3 separate regions of the Homo sapiens genome follow, and all the other regions are linked to region 2. The links come from fine-mapping of genetic effects on gene expression. A gene starts in region 2. Each other region holds a variant in brackets. All regions are shown on one strand. Distances are between the middles of the regions.

Evidence for each region. PIP is the estimated chance that this variant, and not a neighbour inherited with it, causes the effect.
Region 1: its variant is fine-mapped to the expression of LRPAP1 in lung (TOPMed, PIP 0.98).
Region 3: its variant is fine-mapped to the expression of LRPAP1 in whole blood (TOPMed, PIP above 0.99).

What each region holds. Positions count from the first base shown.
Region 1 is chr4:3,506,237-3,514,414 of GRCh38, forward strand. LRPAP1 (LDL receptor related protein associated protein 1) reads right to left here. Exons shown (of 8, transcript NM_002337.4): 8 at 1-6,800. The coding sequence ends at 6,738. Among named protein-coding and RNA genes, the nearest start is that of LRPAP1, 22 kb to the right of the region's middle. RefSeq lists an enhancer at 2,613-3,812. The variant GT/G (reference allele first, on the strand shown) is at 3,749.
Region 2 is chr4:3,528,870-3,537,047 of GRCh38, forward strand. LRPAP1 (LDL receptor related protein associated protein 1) reads right to left here and starts at 3,553. Exons shown (of 8, transcript NM_002337.4): 1 at 3,340-3,553. The coding sequence starts at 3,543. RefSeq lists enhancers at 1-175, 3,333-3,542 and silencers at 3,043-3,292, 3,733-3,792.
Region 3 is chr4:3,553,322-3,561,499 of GRCh38, forward strand. No RefSeq gene overlaps it. Among named protein-coding and RNA genes, the nearest start is that of LINC00955, 19 kb to the right of the region's middle. The variant C/T (reference allele first, on the strand shown) is at 3,874.

The DNA.
Region 1 (8,178 bases), 23 kb before region 2:
TGTATTTTTAGTAGAGATGGGATTTTGTGATGTTGGCCAGGCTGGTCTCAAACTCCTGGCCTCAAGTGATCTGCCCGCCTCAGCCTCCCAAAGTGCTGGGATTCCAGGCGGGAGCCACCCACACTTGGCTCAAGCTGGGTTTTTTTTTTTTTTTGAGGCGAAGTCTTGCTCTTGTCCCCAGGCCGGAGTGCAATGGCGCGATCTCGGCTCACTGCAACCTCTGCCTCCCAGGTTCAAGCCATTCTCCTGCCTCAGCCTCCCAAGTAGCTGGGATTACAGGTGCCTGCCACCATGCCTGGCTAATTTTTTATTTTTAGTAGAGATGGGGTTTCACCATGTTGGCCAGGCTGGTCTCAAACTCCTGACCTCACGTGATCCGCCCACCTCCACCTCCCAAAGTGCTGGGATTCCAGGCATGAGCCACCGCACCCGGCCGGCTCGAGCTGTTTTTAAGAGGATATATCCTGGTTTGCTGCTGTGTAGTTTCCCCAAAGTCTCAATTTGATGAGAAAATAGAAAGACCACTAGAACGGAAAAATAAAAAATAAAAATTAGATTTCATCAAACTGGAAACCTTTGCTTTCCAAAAGATAACCATTAAGAAAGTAAAATAGCAAGCCAGAGGATCGGAAATTATTCACAACACATATCTGAGGAAGGACTCACACCTAGACCTGGGAATAACGCTAAGACCAGGCTGGGTGTGGCGGCTCCCGCCACCTGTAATCCTGGCACTCCGCGAGGTGGAGGCAGGTGAATCACTTGAGACCAGGACTCCGAGACCAGCCTGGGCAACACAGCGAGACCCAGTCTCTATAAAAAAAACCTTTTCTTTAAATTAGCAGAGCATAGTGATGCATGCCTGTAGTCCCAGCTACTCAGAAGACCGAGGTGGGAGGCTCGCTTGAGCCCAGGAGTTTGAGGTTGCAGTGAGCTATGATCGCACCACTGCACTCCAAGCCTGTGCGAGAAAGATCCTGACTCAAAAAAAAAGACAAGATTTCCAAGACCCAGTTTTTTAAATAGGCAAAAGAATTAAGTAGGCCCTTCCCAAAGACGCCACCCAAATGGCCAAGAGCAGACAAAAAGGTGTCATGCCTCTGGCACCAGGGAAGTGCAAGTTACTACAAAACGAAAACAAAAGAATCAAATGGATTTAATTGTCTTTTTGTTACTGATTTCCTCCTCAATTGCACTCTGGCCAAAGAATGTGATTTGTATTATTTACCTACATATCATATATTTATACATTATCATCTGCGAATTACTGACATTTGCTTTGGGTCCTAGTACCTCGTCCATTTTTAAAAGATTCCATGCGTGCTTAAGAATGTTTTCTCTAATGGGCATAAGTAGACCAAGTTTTTAACTGTATTATCCCATTCTTTCATATTCTTCATCAATGATCTAAGCCTCTATCAAAAGAACCTAAAACAAGGACAGCAAATTGAACACAAAATAGGTAGAAGAAAGGAAATTCATAAGAAAAGAGCAAAAGTCAATGAAAAAGAAAACAATAGAAAAAAAAAATCAATGGACCCAAAAGTAGGTTTCTTTGGGGAAAATATCTGTAAAAATGATAAACTCTTAGCTAGTCTGATCAGGGGGAAAAGAAAACACAAATGGCCCAGAGCAGGAATGAGAATGGACATCACTGCACAGAGGATACTGTGAATGATTTATGTAAATTGTTTTGATAACTTAGATGAAATTCTGCGACAAACCTATCTTTAAAAAAATGACAAAGGAAGAAACAGAAAATCCAAAAGCCTCATGTCTTTTTTTTTGAGACAGAGCCTCGCTCTGTTGCCCAGGCTGGAGTGCAGTGGTGTGATCTCAGCTCACTGCAACCTCCACCTCCTGAGTTCAAGTGATTCTCCTGCCTCAGCCTCCAGAGTAGCTGGGATTACAGGCATGCACCACCACACCCTGCTAATTTTTATATTTTTAATGGAGACGGGGTTTCACCATGTTGACTAGGTTGGTCTCAAACTCCTGACCTCAGGTGATCCATCCACGTTGGCCTCCCAAAGTGCTGGGATTACAAGCGTGAGCCACCATGCCAGGCCTCATGTCTATTTTTAAAAATCAAGTTCTTAATGAAAAACCTAAGCAAAAAGAAAATGGCAGGCATAGATGGCCTCACCCATCACATCTCTATGAAACAAATAATGCCAATCCTATACAAACTATGGCAGAACTTGTTTCAGGAGGCCCACTTAATGCAATATCAAACCATGACAGACACATCACATGACAAGACAATGAACATCCAAGCCCAGTGTCCCTCAAGAGCATTCCTACACAGGAGGTCCTTAGCCCGGTATGAGCAAATCTCATCTGGCCATGCAGAGAAAAGGCCAATGCACCATGGCCACAGGGACTTACCTGGAAATGCCAGGTCATCTTGGCATATGAAAGTCAGCGTAATTCACTACAGTAATGCGGTAAGGAAGTGACCTCATGAGCATCTCACTAGGTGCAGGAAAGGCAGCTGACCACATTCAACACGGATTCAGGAAAAGCCCTCAGCAAATGAGGAAGCTCTTCTGCCTGTAAGTGCACCAGTGCAAACCCAACACTGAGCCGGGAGAGACTGAGCCCATGTTCACCGAGACTGGGAATAAGATTAGCGAGCGCCGGCTCACCTCACCAGTGCAGTGAGAAGCCGAGGCACAGACTGACAAGGGGAAGCAAAGCCACTGTCAGACAGAGGACACGCGTGTGCACACGGAAACCCCACGAGTCCACAGAAACACCGCCATGGCCAAGGCGGGAGTTTAGGGCACAGGATTAAAGCACCACGCACAGGTGACAAATGAAATAAAAATACACAGTCCTCAATAGCATATCGAACACCTAGGACTAGATCTAAAGGAAAACATGCCAGACACATGCACAGAAAACTCCAGTTCATTGTTGGGAGAAGTTGAAGATGAACTCAATACCTGGAGTCATACATGGCAGTCAACGCATGGACACCGGAGACTGTTGAGACGCCGACTGGAGTCACACACGGCAGTCAACGCGTGGACACCGGAGACTGTTGAGACGCCGACTGGAGTCACACACGGCAGTCAACGCGTGGACACCGGAGACTGTTGAGACGCCGACTGGAGTCACACACGGCAGTCAACGCGTGGACACCGGAGACTGTTGAGACGCCGACTGGAGTCACACACGGCAGTCAACGCGTGGACACCGGAGACTGTTGAGACGCCGACTGGAGTCACACACGGCAGTCAACGCGTGGACACCGGAGACTGTTGAGACGCCGACTGGAGTCACACACGGCAGTCAACGCGTGGACACCGGAGACTGTTGAGACGCCGACTGGAGTCACACACGGCAGTCAACGCGTGGACACCGGAGACTGTTGAGACGCCGACTGGAGTCACACACGGCAGTCAACGCGTGGACACCGGAGACTGCTGAGACGCCGACTGGAGTCACACACGGCAGTCAACGCGTGGACACTGGAGACTGCTGAGACGCCGACTGGAGTCACACACGGCAGTCAACGCGTGGACACTGGAGACTGCTGAGACGCCGACTGGAGTCACACACGGCAGTCAACGCGTGGACACTGGAGACTGTTGAGACGCCGACTGGAGTCACACACGGCAGTCAACGCGTGGACACTGGAGACTGTTAAGACACCGATTCTTCCCAACATGTATTCAAGACATTCAGAAAAGGTATTCAAAAATGCGTTCAAGGGAATTGCTATTGAAATTCCAGAAGGCAT[GT/G]TTTTTTGGTAGAAATTGAGACACTGATTGTAAAACATATATGGAAACACCAAGGACATAAACAGCCACAAGAATCTTTAAAAAGAAGAGTTGGAAAATGCACATCACCTCGATTCAGGGTTTATTATAAACCCAACTGTAGCCAAGACAGTGTGGCGGCCGGGCACCATGGCTCACACCTACAACCTGTAATCCCAGTAGTTTGGGAGGCTGAGACAGGAGCATCACTTGAGCCCAGATCAAGACCTGCCTGGGCAACATAGTAAAACCCCGTCTCTACAAAAAAAATAAAAATAAAAAAAATAAAATCAGCCGGGTGTGGTGACACACGCCTGTGGTCGCAGCTACTACTCAGGAGACTGAGGCGAGGGGATTGCTGGAGTATGGGAGGTCAAGGGTGCAGTGAGCTGAGATCACGCTACTGCACTCCAGCCTGAGGGACAGAGCAAGACCTTGTCTAAAGTGTGGCAATGGCAAGAGCGTAAGGACAAACAGAAACAGACCCACACAGGTAGGTCAGTTGATTTCTGACAAAGGCGCCAAATTAGGAGAAAAAAGCCTATGCAGCAAATAATCTGAAAGTTAAGGGAGAAATGGATCCTGACTGCAACCCACACTGGAAACGTACACTCCTGAGTAGGGACTGGATACACACGCGGCACACACCCACACAACAGGCCGCCACGCGGCAATCAGGAGTCTGCCGCTGATCCACGCAAAAGCCTGGGTGAATCTCAGATGCTGAGCGAATGTAAGCAGATACACGCAGACATACACAGACGCACGCAAAGACACAGACTGCCCAGAGCCATGCACGTGGAACCCATGGCAGGCGGGAGGTAGGGAGCTGCGGTGGTAGGAGTCAGAATGGGTACCCCTGTGGGACTGGCTCTGCGGAGTGGAGGGCATCACCTACATCCTTCGTGAGTGCGCACCATGACCAGCCACACCCATGGAACTAACACTCGGTATCTGGGTTTTTTGTGTAACTGCCTCCCCTCAACACCATGGTCTCCCACATACAAAAGAGGCCATTATACAGTAAGACACGCTACTCCGCAATTAGACACCACAAAACGCCAGCCAGGCTGTCCATAATTAAAAATACCGAGCACCAAGTCTCAGCAATCCACTAGTGTTCTCCTTCCACCCAGCTGGGAGAAAGAAACACAGTCCAACCACTTTGGAATCATCTCTATACTTGGACAACACGCTTCGTAAGATCCATTAGGTGCTCCTAGAGTTGGCCCCCACCCCCACCCCCACACGAGTGTTCACCACAGCTATTTCCAAGTGAGTGTTATTACCCCAGAAAGGAAGCAACTCAAATATCCACCCACAATAAAGTGCATTAAAATCAGAGCACAGGACAGTCATGCAATGGAATACTATACAGCAATGAAAAGGAACACACTTCTGCTAGATGACAGGGCTGAGTCTCACCAACACACTGAGTACCTTAAGGCTCTCAGGATAATGGGAAAAAAAAGAACCAGAATCCACCCCCCGCCCCACCAGCCACACACACACAAGTCCACAAAGGAACAGGCACCCACATGCTGTACCCTGGGGCCCTTCCAACCCTGATGCGCCAACTCCCGACATGCTGCCTCTAGCCTTGACCTTTCTCAGAAATGATAGCTTAGCGGATGTTTGGCAGATCTCAACAGTCAAGCCAAGATCCAGCTGCAGTCAAAACACAATACGCCTGGTGGAGCCTCTTCCAGGTTCAAACACGGGAACCACGCTCGGAGCTGGACCCGGACCCGAGCCTCTTCCAGGCTCAGACACGGGAACCACGCCCAGAGCCGGACCCGAGCCTCTTCCAGGCTCAGACACGGGAAGGGAACCACGCCCAGAGCCGGACCCGAGCCTCTTCCAGGCTCAGACACGGGAAGGGAACCACGCTCGGAGCCGGACCCGAGCCTCTTCCAGGCTCAGACACGGGAAGGGAACCACGCTCGGAGCCGGACCCGAGCCTCTTCCAGGCTCAGACACGGGAAGGGAACCACGCTCGGAGCCGGACCCGAGCCTCTTCCAGGCTCAGACACGGGAAGGGAACCACGCTCGGAGCCGGACCCGAGCCTCTTCCAGGCTCAGACACGGGAAGGGAACCACGCCTGGAGCCAGACCCGAGCCTCTTCCAGGCTCAGACACAGGAACATTCTCGGAGCCGGACCTGAGCAACCGCCAGTCCATCAGCTATGGTCAGAGGAAGGCCTCCGTGGCTGTCTCTCCCCCATGAGATGGGGCATTTACACAGCACACTTAGGGACACGGAGGCCCTGCAGGTTTGGTGAGGTCTCCCGAGGTCCCTGAGCTGCAGAGGTGAGAGTTGAAAGACGCTGCCCCCAGGCCACAGTCTCTGACTGTCCACAGAACCACACGCTCCACATCTTCCCCTCAAACTCAACTCAAGCGCTCTTGGCTTTAAATCAGGCCGGGCCGTCTCACGGGAAAAGGAGGTTGGCTGCAAAGACCCACAGGGCCCAGAGGGGAAGCTGGCTATGACGCGATCCCTTCAAGAGCACTGGCTCCGGCCCCAGCCACCAGGACACTTAGTGACCAGCCAACAAGCGGGTGGTTTAAATACTGCACTCTATTTTTTAAGGACTCTGTGCATGGTATTTCCGGTGGCAGATGTGTAAGATTTTTTATGTAAATCGTGTTGTTTTAGCAGAGGACTATCAGACCTGACAGCAGCTGGACATCGAGGTCCTCACTGGGGTGGTGACTGCCACGCTGATGCTGAGTGGAAGCCAAGCCCCTTCAGTCAGAGCTGGGCCGATCTCAGACCCAAATGCTACCACCACCAAGCCCTGTGTCGCGACGGCAGCGGCTGCAGTCACCAGAAACAATCCTTCCTGCCTCGACACCCGTGCCAGCCCCAGCCACCCTGACGGCGGGCTGTCCACGGAAATGCCACGGCCAAGAGCCCAGGTCCTTCACGCTGGCCTCTTCCCTGCCGGGCTGGGCTCCCCAATGCCTTCAGAGTTCGTTGTGCCGAGCTCTGGAGATCCTGCCGGACAGGTCCTGCAGATGCTTCTTCACCTGTGGACAGAAACGTCTCATCAGCTGGGGACAGCGCGCCTCGAGGCCAGCTCTGTGAGCTCAGCCTCATGTCAGGAGACGCGCGATCCAAAAGGAAAAGGCGCAAGCCCTGCACATCTGACTTTCCAATTCCACACCCATCCAGAAATGCTCAAATCACAAAAGCAGCTCAGTACTAACTAGAAAATCCCACCAAAGAACGCTAAGAGCCACCAGCCAGGAGCAGTTCATGCTGAAGTGGAAAGCTCAGGGTCTCTGTGATAGGCCCATGGTGTTATTTATTTACTTACTGAAAGGGTCTCGCTCTGTCACCCAGGCTGGAGTGCAGTGGCATGATCTCAGCTCACTGCAACCTCTGCCTCCCAGGCTCAAGTGATCCTCCCACCTCAGCCTCCCATGTACTTAGGACTACAGGTGCCCACCGCCACGCCCGGCTAATTTTTTCTACTTTTGGTAGAGATGGGGTTCTACCATGTTGCCCAGGCTGGTCTCGAACTCCTGAGCTCAGATGATCCACCCACCTCAGCCTCCCAAAGTGCTGGGATTACAGGTGTAAGCCACTGTGCCCAGCCCCACAGTGTTATTTTTAAAAGCAATGACCAGAGAGACTGGGACAGAGCTCTGGGAAAGGCGCCTTCCTCCTCAGGGCCTGGGAGGGAAGGAGAGGGACCTCCAGCTCCTCACATCACAACAGCCCAGAGCATCCCCACAGATACCACCCCAGTGGCAGCAGGTGCTGCGTCAGCCCAGCCTGGGCTGGGGTCACTGTAGCTCTCCCCAGATTCTCACAAAACCCTGCTCGTGGGCGCCACCTCCCTCTCCACATAGAAGCCCGTGGCTCAGGGTGAATAACTCACCGAAGGTCCCTTCTCTCAGCGGCCCTGACCTCTGCCCCAACGGTGCGGGTGCCTCAGGCAGTGCCACACGGCTTTCTTAACCAACACCGAGCTTTGCCGTGGTCAGGTGAAGCTAGGTGCACGCTAGCATTCCATCCCCGCGTCTCGCGGGAGCGCCCTGCAAACCCCACATGGTGGTGCTCACCCTGGACCTGAGCTCCTGCCCACGGGCAAGGGCCACAGGCTGCTCTCCTGCACATTCTGCCAGGCAGACCCGCACCACCCTCTCCTATCAGAACTTCTACCTTCATTTATTTTTTAGGCCTTTGCTATTTTTGAATCGGTAACACATGCCTGCAGTTCAAAGTTTAAAAGGCACAGATGGGGCTCCTGAGCCCCAGCTCCCTCCAGAAAGAACTTGGCATGAGCTTCCAGGGTTTTCTGTGCCTCTGTGGCAAGGCTGTGCGCTGGCTTCAGCTTCTCCTGGGCTCTGCCCCTCCTCCCCTCACATCCCAGGGGCTGTGGGGAAGGAGGCTCGCCTG
Region 2 (8,178 bases):
CATCCTCAGAGGCCCTTCTCAAGCCAGGGGGGACGCTTGAGAGCTGGGGTGGGGCTCTGAGGGCTCCTCTCTGCAGACCTCAGTTTCCACTCGTCAGACCTCTGAGAACAAGATGCTTCACACACTCTCATTGCAGTCACCATTCACGTCAGAACTAAGGACTGTCTGCGTGCGGTGCCTCCTGGGACTACACCTGTAATCCCAACACTTTAGGAGGCAGAGGCGGGAGGATCACTTGAGCCCAGGAGTTCGAGACCAGCCTGGCCAACATGGTGAAACCCCGTCTCTACTAAAAATATAAAAATTAGCCAGGCATGGTGGTGCATGCCTGTAATCCCAGCTACTCAGGAGGCTGAGGCACGAGAATCGCTTGAACCTGGGAGGCGGAGGTTGCAGTGAGCCGAGATCACGCCACTGCACCCCAGCCTCGGCGACAGAGTGAGACTCTGTCTCAAAAAAAACAAAAAAACAAAAAACCAAAAAAACTAAGGACCTATGGCCAAGGACTCCGAGCTCATGGCACCGTGCAGCCCAGGCCAAGAGGTACACGAGTGTGTCCCTGAGCGCCGCAGCTGGACCATGCAGACCCTGGAGCTTACTCCTCAGCATCAACACAACACACAGAGCTCTGAAGAGGCAGAGTCCTCAGAAGTCGTCTGTGAGCACAAGGGCTCTGCATGGCCTCTGACCTCCAAAGCTCCAGGGACAGCCTCTGCTCAGGAGTCTTGCAACACAGTGGAGCCCGCCTGTGAAAGAGGAACTGGGAGAGTCACAGAAAGTCAAGATTCAAGTTGCTGGAGAGGATGAAGCAGCACCCCCCTGGCCGGGTCTCGCCTGATGAAAGCGGGTCTCAGCATCTTCTTGGCGGCAACCTCAACGCAGGTCTCACAGCCCAAGCCCATCAAAGGCAAAGGTTTCCTGAAACGCTCCCTTCACCCTATGCCTACTGACACACTACGCAATCCTATATGCCAGGATGTGGCTTTACATGCAGAAAACAGGGACACGATGTTTTCATGAAGCAAACCAAAGAAAGGACAAGACCGTCCTGGCTGCTGAGCGCAGGTCGCAGGAGGCTGAGAGCAGTGGCTGCAGAGCCGGGCAGGAAGTGCTTCTCTGAAAAAGCAGCCCTCACCTCAATTATCTTCCAGGGGGCGATCCAAGACCCCGTCTCCGTCTGATACCTACCTAGAGCGGCGAGTCAGGTGGGGTAAGAAGCCGACTGGAGTGACTATTTGCACGAACAATTCTCTCCCCCTACGTTTGAACTGACTGTGGCTCCTCCTGCCTCCTGACCACCCTGGGCCCTGGCACGCTCGGCAGAAAGAGCCACAGCACAAAGACCACCCGGGATGCACTACCGCCACTGAGAACCTCAAAAAGACCCGGACGGGTCTGACGCCTGCACACTTGGCTCCAGGATAGAACACCCTCACAGCACCGCCACCCTCCAAGCTTCCGTTATCTGGAAGGAAAATCAGGACGAATGGGCTCTGCAGGCCTGCCTGCCATAGTACCAGGCTCTCTGGAATGGGGGAAGACACACAAAATCCCCCAAAACACCCTCACCCCCGAAGAACTTCACGTTCTGTTCAGCAAAAAAGACTTGCCCACACAACTAGAACTTCAGGACTTAAAGGGACCAGAAAGATCATCTAGTCCAAGGCTCAGTCCAAAGTGGAGGTGAGCAGCTCGCCCTACCATGGTGCCCAGTGAACCTCAGGGAGGTTTAGGAGACATGACCCAACCCAAGACTGAAACTGGTCAGGCGAGCACCCAGCACCGGGGGACAGTGCAGGGGCAGCCCGAGGGTAGCTGGACCAGTGCAGGGGCAGCCTGAGGGCAGGTGTATTGCTGCAGGAGGCCTGGGCTGACAAAGACAGAGGACCAGCTGGAGGTGGCTGGAGGTAAGGTGGAGCGCACCAGGGCGGCCCTGCAGAGCAGGTGGAAGACTTGGGCCAGCACCCAAAAGGGAGCCGCTGGGGTTCCTGGGTCCGAGTGCACTTCCTCAGCGCCACCTCCAATCGGTCAGGGAGTCTATTTCGGGCTCCCCATTCCTCATGGGGAGGGGGGACTCCACCCACTCAACAGATGCCCAGTGCAGTGGGCACGGGGAGGCAGCACTGCATCCCGGCTGCTCCTGGTCACACCTGTTCCCTGCTGCTGGGAGGCCATCAACACATCCAAACCCAGCCGTGTCCCCAGCCCCTCCAGAATCCCTTCCTCCAAGAAGCCGCCCTGCCGCTCCAGCCCAGAGCGTTCTCCCACCTCCCACCTCCGCAGGCTGAACATTACGCCTGGGGCTTGACTGCTGGTCCCAGGAGCAGTTCAGGAAGGGCCTGTGGAGCTGATGCCCAGGCGTCAATCCCCATCCCCACGCAGTCTTATAACCGTCTGTCGTCTGTCTGTCCCCCACCTGTTTCTCCTCTCCCTTTTCGTTCCAAAAGTTCCTTCTTATTCTGCAAATCACTTACTTTCCCTCTCAAAGACTCAGGAATGCTTAAAACTGGACTATTGAGACAGAGATCTAATCTGACTCCTGCATTTGAGATGAGATAATGAGGCCCAGATGGTCGGCATAGTTCGAAAACACCCATTTCAGGTGTTTTCAGGAACACCTAACAAATGAAGCAACCGTATCTTAATGAAGAGAGCAGCTGGCCCAGGGTCACGCACCAATTAGGAAGCTGTTGTCCCGGGGGGCCCCACCGGCCGAGCCACCTTGGGGGTGCCCTTTCCCCTCGGGGCCTCCGTACCCTCATCTCTCAAATGAAGGAGAGGTCAGGTGAGCGCCCTGTTAAGACTGACTTTCAGCATTCCCAAGGTCGCGTTTTATGTGCTCTAAACCGATCCCATCTCCTCACCTCCTCATTTCTCGCTCAAATGAACAAGCACGGGCTTGCTACTGGGATTCCTTCTGTCCCTGGACACGTCTTTCTACCCAACATTTTGTTTTTCTTGTTTCCCCACATAGGGAGATAAGGTTGAGGGAACAGGCAAAGGCTCGGGAGGCAGGAGACCTGTGATCTAGCCTGGTTCTGTCCCTACGCTCGGGTCAGCAGGCCGCCCAGGCTGGGGAGGGCGACACTGACCCTCGGGGTGCCGGCCGCCACCTGCTTCACACGGCGTCGTCGCCGGCACGGGTACCTTTCCTGCTGCAGAAGGGGTCGGGGCGCCCCACCTGACACTTGGGGGAGGCTGTGCCAAGGACAGGGCGCGTAGGGCACAGGTGCCCCGGCTGCGCCCCCCTCCGCCTCCGACCCCTGGGCCCCGCTCCAACGACCCCAACCACGGCCCCCGCCCCCAGGCCCCGCTCCACCGACCGCGGGCCGCGCTCACTCGCTGGGCCTTCTCCCACAGCTGGTTCAACTTCTCCATGCGGAACTCCTCTCCGGACTCGCGTTTCGGGGACGGCTTGGGCTGGTTCTTCTCCCGCGAGTACTTGCCGCCGTGGCTCGCAGCGGGCCAGGGCCCGAGGAAGAGCAGCAGCAGTAGCAGCGCCGGGAGCCCGCGCAGAAACGACCTGACCCTCCGCGGCGCCATCTTCCTCTGCGACTGGCGCTGCGCGGAGAAAACCTAGCCTGCCGATGCCCCGCCCACTACCCCGCCCCCACCCACCGCGCGGTCTCCTGGGAATTGTAGTTCCTCCGTGAGCGGCCGGCAGCGGCGAGGCCGCCGGCGGACTCCAGCGCCTAGGAAGCCCTGCGCAGGCGCAAGCGTTTCCCAGGCAACCACGCCGCGGCCCGAGGCTGCAGACTCTGGCAGGGGATACAACTGGAGAATGAGGGTGGCCGGGTGGGAGCAGGGATCAGGCCTCACCCAGAGCCCGGAGCCTGGAGCCCGCACGACTCGAGGCCTCTTTCCCTCTCTGCCCCACAGAAAGAGCGGAAAGCCCAAGAACCGGGCCGCGTTTGGCTGAGCCTGATAATGCTCCGGCTTCACGCGCACTGACGCCGACTCTTGCATGTCCAGTGCCGTTGCGGGGTTGGCACTGCGGCCCGGGCCTGGCGCTGAGGAGCCTGGCCCAGCCCGCTTCTGCCCTCCGCGGAGCGCCTGGCCGTGGGTAAGCCCAGGCCAGGTTGTCCCGGGGACGCAGGGCCGCGCAGACGTCCCCCTACGTCCCGGGGCCCCTGCCCCAACCCGCGTCCCAAGCGCCTGCTCTCGCGCCTGCTGCAAGGCAGGACTTCGCGCGCTTTTCCCCAACCCATGACACTCTAGGAAATTCACAGAGCCAAAGTTAGCATAGACCGCTCGTTGGGGGCTTGGCCAGTGAGTTGGGAAGTGCCCTGGAGGTAGCGCGGGAAACAAGGGGAAGGAGGGAGACAGACAGCAGCTGGGCCCCTTTGGGCTCAGAGAAGGGACAAGGGGAGCTCATCTGGCAAGAATGATCTGAAAAGGCCTCCAAGGGTGGGCGGGATTTTGCGGGGGGAGGGAGGAATTTCCAACTGGAGGGACAATGACAAAGGGGGTGAATAGAGCCTGGGCATCTTGAGAGGAATTAATGTTAATTCATTTCCTTTTTTTGCGTGGGGGGATAGGGTCTCTGTCATCGAGGCTGGAGTGCAGTGGCATGATCATGGCTCACTGCAGCCTCGACCTCCTGGGCTAAAGCGATCCTCCTGCCTCAGCCTCCCAAGTAGCTGGAACTATAGGTGCGTGTCACCACGCCCAGCTAATTTTTGAAATTTTTTGGTAGAAATTAGGTCTCCCTATGTTGTCCAGGCTGTTCTCCAACTCCTGGGCTCAAGCAACCCTCCCGTCTTGGTCCCCCAAAGTGCTGGGATTACAGGCGTGGGCCACTGGGCCTACCCTAATTTACATTTAAATTGTATCTTGTGTTGTTCCAGAGAAGATTTCAGGTCCCTGGAATCAAGGTGATCTGCTTCTGTCCTGTGCTGCTTTTCTAGTATTTTCAGAGCCATCGTTTCATTTCTTTTTTTCCAGCTGTTGAGTTGTTTCAGGCAAGAGGGTAAATTCAGTCTGTTACTGCATCTTAGCTGGAAGCACAAGTTCCCAATATGGGATGTATGGGGGAGAGGAGGTAAAGGAATCCCCCAGGAGGGTGGTGGAGGGAGAATGACCTCATGCGAAGTGACTCCAGAGACAGATCAAATGCTGTCATTGCCATCATTGCATGTTTTTAAGCCTCAGGACAGAATGGCCAGGTGAGCCTGGCCTAGATTCTCACCTGTGCCTGCCTTCCCCTTGTGTTCCCTCGTTCCTGCTCTTCTCTCCATCTCCTGGTGCCTAGAATCAGAGGTCACCTGTTTTACCCCACATACATGTTTTGCCCTGACCCCACTCCTGAGAGCTACAGGTAGGTCTTGGTGGGCTTAGAAGGGGATAGTCCAAATTGGCCTATCCCCCCCAAGCATGTCCCTGTTGGTCATCTGGAATGTGGTCCTAACTGCAAATGTTCCAGCTCTGTGAATCCTGCCCCCAGTGTCTCTAGAAAGGCCCGTTATAAACCCACAGGAATTGGAAGCTGGACTGGGAGCAGAGTCTTCTGGGATCCTGCATCTGACAGTGGTGTGGGGTTCTAAGAGCCCTTTTCCTATACAGCCCGGTTTCCCAGATAACTAAGCAATATTTTATTCGTGGCTGCATACACAGGCAATGAAACTAAAGAAAGTCAGGGGATGGCTAAAGGATGGAGGATACCTGGGCTGGGGGAGGAGGGAGAATGCGACGGGTGAACACAGACAGGCTTCCAAAGTGGTGTCCAGGTTGTAGTTCTTCACTAGGTGGTGGGCACACAGGCATGCATTTTTCCTTATCTTTAAATTGTACATATTTCATACACTTCTCCGTATGTATTATACATTTCAAACTAGTACATCTTCTAAAAAATCACAGTGGTTAATGCAATCAGTACAGGTGCCAGGCACATACCAGAGACTCCAGGTGACGGCATGCTCTCCTCTTGGGCTCCTCCTCTAGGGCTGAAAGTTTATTTCTCACCCCTGCCGCCAGCACCCGCCATGCCAGCCCGTGTCTCTAAGTGCTGAGGGGAAGGTGTATGAACAGAGACAGATACGGCCGTGGAGGAACCCGGAGGGAGGGCCCTCCACTTGGTGAGGACGGATTGTGAGGCTGGTCAGTGCTGAAGCTGAGTATCTTGCTTACGAGAGAAAAGGGGAACTGTGCTTATAGGACCATCTCTCAGAGCAAAACAAATTGAGTCTCTTGGGAAGCCTGGCATTGAGGATTGTCCAGCTTTCAGAAGTGAGAGTGTTCAGCCTGACTTCAGGGGCACAAGGTTCTTGCTGCCTGGGCCTGTTCTGTAGTGTGGGGCTGTCCCTGACTGGCCGGCTTTCAGAAGCATGCAGCATTGTCATTGACTTATTGGGGTTTCATGCCACCACGGCCAAAAAGCAGTTTGTTTTTGTCCTTGAGTTTGGACTATAGATTGTTATTCTCTCCAGGCAAAGGCAGGAAGCACACGGGAACAGGTAGCGCCAGGTGGCTGCAGGCAGGTGGTCTGGCTGGAGCTCAGTGCAGAAGCACAAGACGGTGGTGAAGAGTGAGGCAGACCCAGGGGACTGAAACGCCACTGGAAGGAAGATTCCACCCAGAGCAATGGGGGCCACAGAGTGATCCTGAGGGGAGAGTTACACAGAGATGCGTTTGAGGAAAAGCAGAGACCAGTGGGAATGCTGGTGCTCTCCGCCAGAGGAGAGGCGAAGGTGATCGGGATGAGATAGAGACACGGAGGCAGTGAAGATGGAGAGGCCATGTGAAGGTGGAAGGGACAGAATTTGGTGACAAGCGTCCAGACTGACGCCCAGGTTTCCACTTGGGGAGACCAGAAGGTGGCAGGGCGAATTCCAATGCCAGGTCTCCAGGGAGAGCACGCTCAGGAGGAAGATGAGAGTCCGGGTCCCTGTGGGATGGACGTGGAGCCCTCCAGGGGCACTGAACTCTATAGATCTGCCAGTCAGGGGCAGAGGGGTCCAGGGCAGAGGAGACAGAGATCTGGGCACCACCCACGAAGGCACAGTGGGCAGGGGATGGAGCCCTCTGGAGGGAGCCAGCGCAAGGGTGCGAGAAGGAGCTTGCAAAGGAAGCAGAGCGGCAGCCAGGACAAGGGAAGGTGCCCGCGAGGAATTTGCCTGTAGACCCCAGGGTTGAGTAGGCTTTAAGGAGGAGCACATGGGCAGCGTTGGGCCGCTCACAGACTGAACGCACAGAGGCTGGTGTAGATGCCTGTGGCCTCTGCCCTTGCAACAACCTCTGTCTTGGGTCAGGTTTCCTGGAAGCAGAGCTGAGATGGAATTCCTGTGGAGGTGATTATGGAGGGGTGCTCCTAGGAAAGGAGAGTGGGGGTAGAGAGCCGGTGCAGAGAGCTGAGCAAGGCTGTGACTGCTTCAGCCTGGTTGGATGAAGGGGAGCTCGGGAGCACTGCACCTCACGGCTGTCCCTGCCTTGAGGCCAGGACCATTTTGTGTCTCCTCTCCCTCCCCTCATCAATCAGGCACTGGGTTGTGGGGGAGGGTGTGACCTTCTGGGTGAGGCAGTTTTCCCACTTGGCCTAGGGCAATGAGCCTCCGCTATCCTCAGGCAGCCACCATTGCCTGAAGACAAGTGAGACCCCATGTGCTTGGGCAAAACCAACCCCTTCCCAGCTCCCAGCATTCAGGGAGGGTCTTTGAGTAAGACACCCTCAGCTGCCTCCTCTGCTGGCAAACTCCCTGTCACTGCTTTCCCCACTGTCTGCCACTGTAGACCCCAGGATGAAGCTCATTATGCTGCTTCTCCCTCTGTATGGAAAGTTCGAGTCCCCCCAGGCCACCCCTTGCCCCAGACAGCTCTGTAAATCCCCTTCTCAGACCCCTTCCCCCATCCCCAGTTCCCTCAAACCCTTCCACTCTCGAGCTCCTGACCAGCCATGAGCAACGTCCCCCATATCCTAAACTTTTTGTAAACCAAAAATAAAATTCTGAGGGCCCCCCAGCCATCTGAATGGACTTCCTCCTCTGCCAGGGCACTCTTTTTTTTTTTTTTTTTTTTTTTTAACTTCTTAAATGCACAAATTTATTTTTTCTCAACAAACACACATCTTAATGCCTTTACAACTTTTATCTCCCCAAATATATCTTGCTTTTCTTTATACATGCTGTATACAGAGTTGTTTTCCTTATATTTAGTAGTTATTGCTTTTTTGTGCCCTTTTGGGTC
Region 3 (8,178 bases), 24 kb after region 2:
TGTCTGGCTGCCTAAAGGATTATTTCTTTATCTTCAAAGTCCAGTGATTTTACAAAGGCATGTTTTGTGTTGACTGTTCTGGGCCAACACACACAAGTATACAGCATGCACTTTTACAGGCAGGCGCAAGTCTGCCTGCATTTCAATAAAAGAGGTCTTGAATGATAGTTTCAATCCTTGTTCATCAGGTGCTGTGGTGCACACCTGTGGTCCCAGCTACTCAGGAGGCCAGAAGTTCAAGGCCAGCCTGGGCAACGCTAGCTTATATGAGATCATCTCTCACATAAATCAAGTAGTCAATTGTTCTGATCTGTTAGTTTTGCCTATCGTATGTGTACGCTGGAGCCCCTTTACTGTTTTTTTTTTTTTTTTTTTTTTTTTTTTGAGACAGAGTCTCGCTCTGTTGCCAGGCTGGAGTGTAATGGCACAGTCTCAGCTCACTGCAACCTCTGCCTCCTGGGTTCAAGTGATACTCCTGCCTCAGCCTCCCGAGTAGCTGGGATTACAGGCACACATCACCATGCCCGGCTAATTTTTGTATTTTTAGTAGAGACGGGGTTTCACCATCTTGGCAAGGCTGGTCTTGAACTCCTGACCTTGTGATCCAACTGTCTTGCCTCCCAAAGAGCTCGGAGCTCGGATTACAGGCGGGAGCCACCGCGCCCGGCCCTTTACTGGTCTTTTATAGTCACTTTCTCTCTAATCCTTTTTAATCTCTTTCCTCTTTCTTTCCATTTGCTCACTTTTTCCTTTTTTACATGATTTTCGTGGTGTCTCTGCTCTCGTATTACCTGTAACTTCATTTCTTCATTTCTGAAATGGTTTTGTCTTTTTCTTCAGTTTCCTTCCTGAATTCTGTCATTTCCTACCACAGACTCCGCTGCCGTTTGGCCACCTCTTCCCTGCGTTCTTATTCTGTGCTTATTCTCCTCTGTTCTTATTCTGTGCTGTAGTCTCCCTTCGGAGCTGAAGTTCTTGTTGGAATATTAGATCATGATTTTCATCTGGTTTGTGGCAGTATTTGTCTGATGAGATTTCTTCATTTGTAGGAGAATAGCACTGCTTTTATTTTTTATTTTTATTTTTTAAGACTGCAGCTTGCTCTGTGACGCAGGCTGGAGTGCGGTGGCACAATCGTAACTCACTAGAGCCTTGACCTACAGCCTGCACTCGAGCAATTCTGCTGCCTCTGCCTCCGGAGCAGCTGGGGACTATAGGTGCATGCCACCATGCCTGCCTGGGTTTCTTTTTTTATTTTTTTGAGAGAGGGTCTCCCTCTGTCACCCAGGCTGGAATGCAGTGGCACAATCTCAGCTCACTGCAATTTCTACCTCCTGGGCTCAAGCGATTCTCCCATCTCAGCCTTCTGAATAGCTGGGACTACAGGTGCACACTATCGTGCCCGGGAATTTCTTAGTATTATTATTATTTTTTTTTTTGTAGAGACAAGGTTTCACGATGTTGTCCAGGCTGGTCTCGAACTGCTGGGCTCAAGTGATCTGCCCACCTTGGTCTCCCAAAGTATTGGGCGTGAGCCACTGTGCCTGGCCTTTTTTTTTTTTTTAAGTTAGACACTTAGGTCTCCTTATGTTGGCCAGGCTGATCTTGAACTCCTGGCCTCACTCAATCCTCCCGCCTCTGTCTTTCCCACAAAGTGCTGGTGTTACTGGAAAAGGGGGGGCTCTGATCCAGACCCCAAGAGAGGTCTCTTTGATCTCATGCGAGAAAGACTTTGGAGCGAGTTCACGGAGTAAAGTGAGAGCAAGTTTATCAGGAAAGTAAAGGGATGAAGAGGATCTGAGGTCTCCTCCCCTCCCTTTTGAGACCTTATAAGGTAACCTCCAGACATTGCCATGGCATCTGTAAGCTGTCATGGTGCTGGTGGGGGTGTCTTTTAGCAGCTAATGCATTCTAATTGGCATATAATGAGCCGTGAGGACAATCAGAGGTCACTCTCGTGGCCGCCTTGGTTTTGGTGGGCTTTGGCCGGCTTCTTTACTGCAACCTCCTTTATGAGCAAGGTCTTCATGACCTGTATCTTGTGCCGACCTCCTATCTCATCCTGTGACTTAGAATGCCTAACCTCCTGGGAATGCAGCCCGGCAGGTCTCAGCCTCATTTTACCCAGCTCCTGTTCAAGATGGAGTTGCTCTGGTTCACACGCCTCTGGCATTGGGATTTCAGGCGTGAGCCACTGCGCCCGGCCAGCATTGCTTTTGGAAGTGGAGAGCGTGCCCATTCTTGTTACTCGTTTATTTGAATAGGATGGTTGTTCCGGCCAGGAGGTGCTGGGCCACGGCTCCTGGGAGGACCTCAGCACCACTCGCTCCTGTTGGCAGCTGAGCCAGCCCACCTTGAGGTCCTGTGCCTGGGTTACAGCTGGTGGTGTGTGGGTGCACAGTGATGGCCGGCCTCTGAGAGCTGGGGCGGGCCAGTGCGGCCTGACTCTGCCTGTAGGAAGCTCTAGAACAGGTCACGCTGATCTGCAATGAAAAGTCGCCTCTGGAGGGGGTGCAGTGGGGACTGATGAGCGCATATCTCGGGGGTGGTCAGGTTCTTATCTTGGTGGAGTCCGCTTTTGTCAACTCCCTGAGTGACACCCTTGAGATCTGTATAGCATGCTGGGTTGAACTGTGACTCCCAAATTCATATGTTGAAGTCTTGACCCCTGTATCTCAGAATATGCCAGGGCAGAGTCAGCAAAAAGAGGAAAATCTCCAGCCGGTTCCCCAGCTCTGAGCCTGTACCTGCCTTGGGGCCAGGAGAGGCTGAGGTGTGGGAAAAATGCATATTTGGGTTCCTCTGCCAGAGCATGGTCCTCCGTGGAGTCGGCCTCCTGCAGAGGGGAGCAGCAGGTGCTGTTGCATGCTACCGTCTCCCCTGAGCCTCTCAGGGTCTCCTTAGGAAGAGGGTGCATGTTCCCTCCCAGGTGCAGCTCACCCCTACCTCTGCCCCCCACATCTCCCTCCCCCCGCCCCAGGCAGCCCCCAAGACTTTCCTTGCCCTGAACTCCCATCTGCCTCCCGGGTCTGTCCTCTGTCCCTGGCTGCTCGGGTCAGCGTGGCCTCCGGTTCTCTCCCTTTCTGTCCCTTTTGCACTCTGGCTCCCTCTCTAGGCTGCGGTGCAGTGAGGACGCTGCCCAGGGCTGGAGGCTGGCGGGAGGTTGGGTGTGATGTGAGGCTGTGTTGCCGGCTGTTCTGGGGATGCTGACAACATTAGCGTGGCTCATGTTTATCGTGGGTCTAGCTCCCCTTGTACAGACATGGTCCTCTTCCCTTCCTCCGCGGAGGCAGAACCCTGATGCGTCGTGGGGCATGTAGCTGGCCAGAATGAAAACCTGCATCTCCCAGCCTCCTCCCTGAGGCTAAGTGGAGCCGAGCTGCTAAGTCGTGGCCAGTGGGTTAAAGGCAGAAGTGCTGTAGGAGACTTCCAGGAAGATGGCTCAAAAACAAGCTGACTCAGCTGGGACTTCTGGGAGGGGCCCTTTTCTGCCCTGTACTTTTCCAGCTTTCTTCCACCTGTCCTGTGGTCTTGATGGCTGGAGCACCAGCAGCCACCTTGGACCATGGAGTGGCTTTGAGGCTAGACACTATGCGTGGAGGACGAGGAGCAGGACAGCCAGGATCTGGGTCCCTGAGGACATCGAGGAGCTGCCACCTCACCCTCAATCAGTCATCCCCAGATTCTCCCTTCAGAAAGAAATCAGCTTCTTTCTTGTTTATGCTTCTTTTGCTGGGATTGTCATATGCAGCGAAACCAAACTGTGGAGTCCCGATCAGCTGATAGAAATGAGGAAGGGGTTCCCTCCTCTGCACAGCTCCATGGCACCACAGGCCCTAGCTGGCAAGAACATGAACTAGGGTCGGGGAGAGC[C/T]GTTGTTCTAAGAAATGGCTAACCACAAGCAGCCCGCTTGCACAACCTCATGTTACCAAATACCTCACTCTGCACGTTAGCTCCAGCAGCATGACCCTGTCTGCATGGGGCCTCTCCAGCGTGACCCTGTCTGCATGTGGCCTCTCCAGCGTGACCCTGTTTGCATGTCGCCTCTCCAGTGTGACCGTTTCCACATGTAGCCTCTCCAGCATGACCCTGTCTGCATGTGGCCTCTCCAGAGTGACCCTGTCTGCATGTGGCCTCTCCAGAGTGACCCTGTCTGCATGTGGCCTCTCCAGCGTGATGCTGTCTGCGTGGGGCCTCTCCAGCGTGACCCTGTCTGCGTGGGGCCTCTCCAGCGTGACCCTGTCTGCGTGGGGCCTCTCCAGCGTGACCCTGTCTGCGTGGGGCCTCTCCAGCGTGACCCTGTCTGCGTGGGGCCTCTCCTGCGTGACCCTGTCTGCGTGGGGCCTCTCCAGCGTGACCCTGTCTGCGTGGGGCCTCTCCAGCGTGACCCTGTCTGCGTGGGGCCTCTCCAGCGTGACCCTGTCTGCGTGTGGCCTCTCCAGAGTGACCCTGTCTGCATGTCGCCTCTCCAGCATGACTGTATCCACATGTGGCCTCTCCAGTGTGACTCTGTTTGCATGTGGCCTCTCCAGCATGACCCTGTCTGCATGTCGCCTCTCCAGTGTGACCCTATCAAACTTCCCCCTGGCCCCTGCCCCTGGGGAGGTGGCCTTCTCTCTGCCATGCTGCCTGCTGTTCTCTTGCAAGGTGTCTTCAGACTTTCTTTACCCACGACTGTCTCGGTAAATTCTTTTACCACCCGTGACACCAGCCCCAGCCAGTTGCACCTGCAACACTGGCTGCAGTGGATTCCTTGTTGCTGATACTCCACATAACGTTGTTAGGTGTCATATATGATCATTCTTTAACAGAGGGGCAAGCTGAGGCTCAGAGAGGTTAAGGCACTTGCTCAAGGTCACACAGCAGAGAGGTTGTGAGTAAGCCAGGCTGCTGGCTTAGAACACTGCCATGGCATTTCTCAGATCACCTCGCTCAGGGACTCCTGGCAGTTCCCCCTGCGTCATAGCGGTGAGTCTGTCCAGGATGAGCCACTCCAGGCTACCGAGGGCCAGCTGGAGGGCCTGCAGACACCTGCTGTGGAGTCAAGGTCCACACCATCAGCCGGAAGAGAGGTCTCAGGAGGGGCATTAGTGTTTGTCCTCGCTGTGATTGCACTGACTGACAAATCAGCTGTGGGACAATGGAAAACACAGTAGCAGCTTGTTACTGAGAAGGGAGGACTCAGGGTGGACCTGACCCCTCTGCAGATGGCTTGGTGAGAACGTGGCCTGCCCTGTTGGCTCCTCCCTCTGGGTATTGGAATTGCCGGGCAGCCAGAGGCTTACCTGGGGTTACTGGCACCCAGGGAGGAGAAGCCCTGAGCTGTGCGGCTGCTGAGGAAGGCTGTCTGCAGGGGAGAGCCCGAGCGCTGAAGGAGGCCAGTGGGCTCAGCCCGATGTCTCCATTCTCCTTCCTACAGCAACCAGGGTGCTTGGAGCAACCAATTGCCCCCCCTTACCTGGTAGGGATGCTAGGAGGGAGAGCGAGCCATTCCTCTAACATCAGTGACCATGTCTTGGTTCCAAAACCCCTTAAGCCTTGGGTTATTTATCAGCAAAAAGAGAAGGGAGGTGCTCAGGGGGTCTTCGTGGAGATCCCCTGCTCCCCTCGCCTTGAATGTGGAGAGGGCCCAAGACTCCCTAGGGAAGGCAGGTGATATAGACTCCAGGTGTGCCCTGCTCCGTCCTCGGCACCACTCTGCAGCACCACAGGCAGTCTGGGGTGCAGATAACATCTCCCTGGGCACAGCTTCGCACCAGGGCATGCTGGGGTACAGCCACACTTGCACAGCCTGTGGATCCCTGCAGCCTGGGGATTGGGCTGCTATTCCCACTGCAGGGAGGGAGGTGGTCGGAGGTAGGGGCTGCTCCTACCTAGGTACTTCTGGCCTCACCAGAAGAAGGGGGAGGGTTTGCACATTGAGTGGCGCCTGCTCCATGTTTGTGCCTGTATTTACATCATTATTCTGAAGGCCAAGAGATTGGACCTGCCGGAGCTCCATGCACAGACCCTGTGCAGGTGCATGTGGGCTTCTGGCTTCCTGGTGTGCACAGCCCCTTCTCTCCCTTCTGGACTGTGGCAGTGTACTAGGGACATTGTAGCCACTGTGTAAAGTCTCCCGCTTTCTGGGACAATTTTATTCACTCATGTGTGTTGAGAGCTTGTTTTGTGCTGGGGTCCCTGGGGAGAACGCTGGGTTCACTCATAGTTCCACAACAAGAGACCTGTGGCCTTTGTTGTGGACAGGGGCCAAGAGCACGTAGAGAAGGCGCTGAATGCTCCTTGGCTTCCAGGGGAAAGATCAGGACTGGAAGGATGTGGGAACTGCCCAAAGCTACAGAATCTGCTGTCTCAATGGCTGAGCAGGGTGCAGAGTGCATGCGGCTGTTTGTTCTGTGGCACTGGTAACCTTGGCACTTCTCCAGGTGTGAAGGACAGCATGGGAGTGAGCCTGTGAAGTTGTAGGCAGAGTCCAGGCAGCCCCGAGCCTGGGTTGGTTGTAGCTGTCAGAGTGGCAGCAGGTGGACAGAGGGGATGGGCTCGGGGGGAGGCGGGGGGACCCGCTTGAGTGGGAGTCAGCCTGGGGGCATCTCAATCCCTCTGATGCCTGGTTTGGGTCCCCAGCACTACTTAGCCCACCCCACTGAGCCTGTCTGTGCCTGGCCTGGCACTGGTGATGCAGGGACTGAGTCAGGCAGGGCACGACCCAGAGAGCCCATGGGCAGACAATGTTGGTGCTGCATGCCCGGGCTTAAACCAGCAAGCCTGATTCTGAATGTCCACAAGCTCTTGGCTGGTGGGGCCACAGGACTGGGACCCAAGCCTCCTGGCGACATGGGTGAGGCCATCTGTCATCGGTCCTTCTCTCAGGCCACCTGGTTCCCTGTGACTCACTTGGTGTTGGCCAGGTGCATGGATGCAGATCTGAGCAGACAGTCCCTGTGTCCCCAGTCTGGTTGGGGGTGCAGGGGTCTGGAGCCCATGTGAGCCTGGTGAGAGCCTGGGAAGGAACCACTTTTTCCATGGCAGAGCTGAGTGCAAAGCACGCTGTTGCACTGCTCTGGTGGTGGCATTTTACTCTGTAACCTATTCATCCACACACTCATGTATTTCTCCACCCACCCATTCATCTACTTATCCACCCATTCACCCATCCATCCACTTATCCATCCACCCATCTACACATCCATCCATCCACCCACACACCCATCCACCCACCCACCCATCCACCCACCCATCCATCCATACACCCACCCATCCATCACTTATTTGTTCATCTATCCATCCATTCCCCATCTGTCCATCCACCTACTCACCCATCCATCCACCATCCATCCAACCATCCATTCATGCATCCATCTACTCATCCATTCATCCATCCATCCACCCATTCACCCACCCACCCATCCACGTATTGACCCATCCATCCACCCATCCATCTACCCATACTTCCATCTATCCACATACCTGCCCATGCACCCACTCATCCATCCACCCACCCACTCACCTATCCACCCATCCACCCATCCATGCATCCATCCATCCATCCCCCCACCCACCCGCCTCGTCCCTCCATCTGAAGGTCATTACGGAACAGCTGTGAAGCTGAGATGCTGGGGACCCAGTGGTTACTCAGGACAGTCATGGACACTGCCCTCTAGGCTGTGCTTCCTGGCAGGCAGAAGCAGCGAACAGGACCCTTTGCAGATAGTGGTGTCTGCTGTAAAGGAGAGAAAACAGCGAGAGTAAAAGAGTTGAAGAGCTACTGGGGTCTCCTGGGACTCTTTTCCATTCTGAGTCCTGAGCCCACCGAGAAGTAAGGCATGAAGGCAGGTGCTGGAAACCCAAAACCCTTCTATCAGTGCCAACTCCTCCATCAGGTTGTAAACCAAAAGATATCTGAGACAGGTCTCAATAAATTTAAAACACTTATTTTGCCAAGGTGAAGTAAGGGCCTGTGACACAGCCTCAGGAGGTCTTGACGACATGTGCCCAAAGTGGTCAGGGTACAGTTTGCTTTTTTTTTTTTTTTTGTTATTTTATTTTATTGAGATAGAGTCTCACTCTGTTGCTCAGGCTGGAGTGCAGTGGTGCGATCTCGGCTCACTGCAACCTCCGTCTCCCGGGTTCAAGCAATTCTCTGTCCCAGCCTCCCCAGTAGCTGGGAATATAGGCGCA